2 separate regions of the Homo sapiens genome follow, and region 1 is linked to region 2. A link means that fine-mapping ties the variant in region 2 to the expression of a gene that starts in the linked region. Tissue or cell type: hippocampus. Region 2 holds a variant in brackets; the other region holds the start of a gene. All regions are shown on one strand. Distances are between the middles of the regions.

The links. PIP is the estimated chance that this variant, and not a neighbour inherited with it, causes the effect.
Region 1: it holds the start of MTSS1, and the variant in region 2 is fine-mapped to the expression of MTSS1 in hippocampus (GTEx, PIP above 0.99).

Annotation. Positions count from the first base shown.
Region 1 is chr8:124,727,122-124,729,803 of GRCh38, reverse strand. It overlaps MTSS1 (MTSS I-BAR domain containing 1), which reads left to right and starts at 1,331. Exons shown (of 14, transcript NM_014751.6): 1 at 1,331-1,920. The coding sequence starts at 1,849. LOC105375741 (a long non-coding RNA gene) reads right to left here and starts at 1,265. Exons shown (of 3, transcript XR_002956670.2): 1 at 1-1,265.
Region 2 is chr8:123,852,595-123,855,276 of GRCh38, reverse strand. All of the region lies in intron 1 of FER1L6 (fer-1 like family member 6), which reads right to left. Among named protein-coding and RNA genes, the nearest start is that of FER1L6, 1.9 kb to the right of the region's middle. The variant A/G (reference allele first, on the strand shown) is at 1,089.

The DNA of each region.
Region 1 (2,682 bases), 870 kb before region 2:
AACGATGTGTCAAGCACCCGTTATTGGCAAGGTGAAGATGAGTCGGATGCATTCGAACGCCCTTGGGGACAGGATCCAGCAGGGGTGATCAAGAGATCAGTTACTTCCTGAAGGTAACACCCTTCCGGGTGATTTCGGGGAGACGGATGGGGAAGGTGGGTTGCAGTTAAGAGTTGGGCAGAGTGATCCAGGGGAACATTATCTTCTGCAGCTGTGCTGTGTAACTCCATGCATCCCTTTGATCCATAAAGTTTTCAAAGCCAGACCTTTTCCCATTACGGAGTGAATCTGACACAAGTGTACAGAATTTTGCACTTGGTTTCTTTTGGCCCCACTCCCCCCAGTCTTTTCTTTTGTTATGTTTTGTGCTTCAAATGGTTAGCTCAAGGGTTAAAGGAACTGTCCGGAGTTAGGTGCCTATGTCTTAATATCTTTTAAAAGTTGCTCATTTGATTCTCCTCCCTCTGGCCCATTTGGCGTTCATCTGAATGAGGGCTCCTGGTTATGCAGATAGGCAGTGGAGCTGTGAAAATGGACCACTAGGCCCCAAATCAACCTGGGCACATTTGCGCTCTGCAGGTTCAACCTCCCAGGAGGGCTCCCTGCGGTTATACCAACGCTGGCTGCTCTCAGTGGGCCTGAAAACCATCAACCGTCCAAGTCATAGGCAATCAGCAATCTCGATAGACTGATGGATCGTGGACAGAAGCTCTAACGCTGTTTCCATTCATTTAGCAACAGCAAATCAATCCACTTTCCCAGCATCCTGCAACTTTATCGAACTCGGCATCCCATTGCAGGATACGCCCCCGAACTCTCCTTAATTATATATTTCGCTATTTGCAATCAGGACTCGGCGATGCAGTCCTGACATCAGAGAATGGGCGTCTTCTCAGAAGGCCGCAGTAGCGGCAGCAGCTTTCCCGCCCTACTGAGCGCTCACTACAAGCGGGCTCTGGGCTAGGCGCGCCACCCGTGCAAGTCCCCGGGGAGCGGCGGTGCACCCTCCGTCCCGCGCGCTCGCAGCCATTGTAGGGGTGGGCGCTCGCCAGGCAGGGTGCCGACACGCCCTCTCCGCGCTGCGACGGGCGGCCGGGGGAGGAGAGGGTGCGCTGTGCGCACCGGAGGGAGAGGCTCCGGCCCAGCGCCGCCTGCCCGCCAGCAGACCAGCAGGCTCCTCTTTGCGGCGGGTGCCCCACGCGCCTCTCGGGCGCGCGCTCCCAGCCCCGCCCGCGTGCGGCGGCCGCACGGCCGCGAGAGCGCGCCTCCGCTTGGCGGGCACGGCCGCGAGCGCGCGTGCGCCCCTCCGAACGTCCCCGGGAGCCCAGCCAGAGCGAGCGCCGGGGCCGGGCGCGCAGGAGTGAAAAGGAGGCGGCGGCCGCAGCTGCGAGCAACAGATCCGGACGCCGCGAGCTGACCCGCTCTGCTGTTGGGCGATTTTTTTTTAATTGCAGAAAAATTTATTAAATTGGAAAATCTTGCGTTTTTCAATGGCGCTGGCCCCGGGTCAGCGGGCGATTTTCTCTGCATCAAGATGGGCTTTGCCGTTTCCGTAGTGGGCACCAGTGGTGGCCTGATTGTCAGTCTTCTCCCGGCATTTTTAAGGCCAGGAGCCGAGCGCTGCTTGTAGGCGAATACCCTACAGAGCGGTTTGGCTTTTTAAATTACTGTTATTATTTTGGGCAGAGAACAGTCGGTCTGGTGCACCCCGTCCTCGCTGCAGAAGAGGCTGCGAGTCCGAGGTGGGTCTCTCGGAAGGTGAAATTCCTTCTGGGGTGAGCGAGCCCCGGCCCCGCGCGCAGTCCAGCGGCCCCGCGTGTGTGCCCTCGCCCTGCCGGAGCCGGGAAAATGGAGGCTGTGATTGAGAAGGAATGCAGCGCGCTCGGAGGCCTCTTCCAGACCATCATCAGCGACATGAAGGTAGGACGCCGGGGGTGCGGCTGCGGCGCCGGCCGCCGCGCTCTGACCTCGCCGCCGCGCTTCGCCTCCACCCCGGGCCGGGCACCCGGCCCTTCCCTGCAGTGTGGCCACCGGCCACCTGCGGGAGCTCCCGGCCGGAGTGTCACCTGCTCACCCGGGGCGCTGCTCCGGGCTCTGCGGGGTCACTGGGCGGGTGGCTTCTCTGGGGGGTGTCTGCTGTCCCACGCCATCTCCCCCGCTCATTGTCCCAGGGGGCGGCACCATTTCTTTCCCTCGGGGGCTCAAGGCACTGGCTGCAAGTTTTCCCATTGTCTGTCCCTGAAGTAAGTGTCTGGGACCCGCGGGGGCTGGATGCCCGGGAGGACACCTGATTCCTCCGGGCACGGGGTGGGGGCGCCTGGCGCGGTGGTGGGGAGGAAGTGGGGGCTCTGCCCGCTCGCAGGAAGGAGTCCCCTAGCCTAGGAGACTGAGAGGGAAAGCCAGTCCCTCCTTGGCTGTCAGGTCTACTTGGAGTGGGGTATCTGAGCAAATTAGTTATTAATTGGGCCGTTCCGAAGCTGGTAAAGGTGTGCGTGCCCTCTCTTAGCCCTCCCGCGGGGCGCGGGGCCGAAGTTCCCGGGCAGCCTTGCAGGGGCCCCGCCTTCTCCCAGCTGAGCCTAAAGGCAAGATTGGGGCCCCCGAAATAACTGTATCCTGCCCTCCCAGACCCAAACGGACACACACTCTAGGTTTTCTCTTGGAAGGGTTGTGAAGATGGTGTGT
Region 2 (2,682 bases):
ATTCCAGTCAGGCTCCCCAAACACATAAAAGAACTGAGAGCACGCATCACAGCATCCCTCTCCCATGATGCCTGGAACTGTCCTGGATCCTGAACTGTTTGAGCTAAATTCCAGCCTTTTCATCTGTCCCCTGGGCAACCTTCGATTCCATTTATATGAAATCTCCAAAATAGGTAAATCCGTATGGACAAAATGCAGATTCATTGTGACCCAGGGCCGATTGAAGAGGGAAAGCTGAGAGTAATAGGGTCTCCTTTGGAGCTAAAACTGCTTTAGAACTAGGTAGAGGTGATGATTGTAAGCCATTGTGAATGTACCGAATGCTGCGGAACTGTACACTTTGAAATAGTTATGTTACATGAATTTCACTTCAATAAAAATTTTAACAAACTAGGATACGAGACAGATTATGGTAAGTGTATAGCAGAAGAATAAACGCAGTGCCAGGAAGCCTGGAGAGATTGGCTTTCACTCCCAGTTTCACTCCCACAGTCTCCCGCTATCCCCCACCATGCCTGGCAGTCCCCACAGTCACCTCTGCTCAAGCTGCTTCCTCCTCCCAGAATGGGCTTCTTTCTTTGTTCTGCTGAGAGCCCATCCCCAAGGCTTAGACAAAATGAGAAGGGCCTGTGAAGACACCCTTGGTAATAAAGGGACAGAAGATACCCTTCGGTCCCCTGTTCTATTCACATTCCTGAAATGGGAACACCTCCTCCATTGGCCCTCTGTCCCAATCCCCATCATAGACCACCACACTCAGAAACACAGTGTGATGGACTCTTTTGTGGCAATGAATCTAAGTTTCACATTTGAGTTGACATGCTACACAGCAGAGATCCGAGATGAAGCTGTGACAGCCCAGAAGGAAAGTGACTGTGACTGCAACCACATAATCTCCCAGAACACGCAGACATCTGGGTGTGCACTGTGGGAGGAGCCTTGGATTTCCCCAGAGCTTGGAATGATCTAGAGGGTATCAACACCCTACTGGGGAAAGGAGTAATAAAATGCAGGTAATATTTTTTTCTCATCCTCTCAGTGTTGTCATAAGGATAAAATGCAATAACTTCCTCGAAACAGCTCAGAAA[A/G]GCCTAGATCATTTACAAACATAAGGCATTGTTTATGTTATAATTGCCGTGGCATCATGTTGGAGCCGTAACTGTCCTGAGAAACCATCTCACCAGACGTCTTTTCATTTTATAGATGAAGAGACTCAGGACTGACAGGAGCCTGCCAGAAGTCACACAGGCCTTTACTGAAGGGCCAGCACTCAGACGTAAACTTTCTAATCACGGTCCCTGATGCTTCCCTGAGAGCCAGGCCCACAGAAGCCCTGCATCCTTTGCTCCTCAGAGGTGCACCTTCTGCTGCCCTGTCCAGGCTCTGTGGAGTTGCAGGAGACTGGCAGCTCTGCAGAGTCCCTGGGTAGCATCACTGTGGCTTCATCAAGGCCGCGATGTTGTTCCTTCTTACATCGTTCTCAGTGAAAACCAGCCTCTGTGCTTGACACTGTTGGGTTGTCTGCAGCTTTCTGGCCTTTTCCTCCTCCAGGTCTTCATCATAGCCATGAGCATGTCACCTGCATACGTGCAACTTGGATAGGTTCTCTCAAAATATGTTACTCCACGCTTGCCCGTGGTGAGGCGTACCTACCCCTTTTTCTCTACTCATCCACCCTTGTAAAATCTCCCCTGATTAATACAATACCCCAGGAAAAAAGTAACAATTTTTCAACAGCCTTGGGTCCAAATCATCATCTGTATCATTTCCTCATTAAGACCTTTCTAAGAACTGTTGAATAAAAATGATTTCTTCTATTTTAGGCCGGGTACGGTGGCTCACGCCTATAATCCCAGCACTTTGGGAGGCTGAGGTGGGTGGATCGTTTGAGGTCAGAAGTTTGAGACCATCCTGGCCGTCATGGTGAAACCCCGTCTTCTCTAAAAATACAGAAATTAGCCGGGTGTGATGGCAAGCACCTGTAATCCCAGCTATTCTGGAGCCTGAGGCACGAGACTCACTTGAACCTGGGAGGTGGCGGCTGCAGTGAGCCAAGATTGTACCACTGCACTCCAGCCTGGGCTATAGAGTGAGACTGTCTCAAAAAAAGATTTCGTCTATTTTAAAGTCTGAGGGTGGGCACAGTGGCTCACGCACGTAATCCGAGCACTTTGGAAGGCTGAGGCAGGAGGATCGCTTGAGCCCAGGAGTTTGAGACCAACCTGAGCAACATAGCGAGGCCCCGTCTCTACAAAAATAAGAATAAAATTGATCTGATAGGTAGCTAAATAGACACATAGAATACATCTATATCTAATACATATTTCATATATGATATATGATATATAACCTTAGGGATGATTACATTTGCCTCAAAATCCATCTCCAAAAATTACAATGTGGGATTCTGGACTGGCTCCTAGAACAGAAAAAGACATTCGTGGAAAAACTTGTGAAATCCAAATAAAGCGTGGAGCTTAGTTAATAGTAATGCTGCATTTTCAGTTTCTTCATTTTCATAAATGTACCATGGTAATATAAGATGTTACCATTAGGGAAAACTGAGTGAGAAATTTAAGAGAACTCAATTATCTTTGCAACTTTTCTGTAAAATAAAAATTTATGTTTTAAAAGTCTAACAATCTTGTGAGAGGCCCCACATTTTCTATGAGTTCCTGAGGC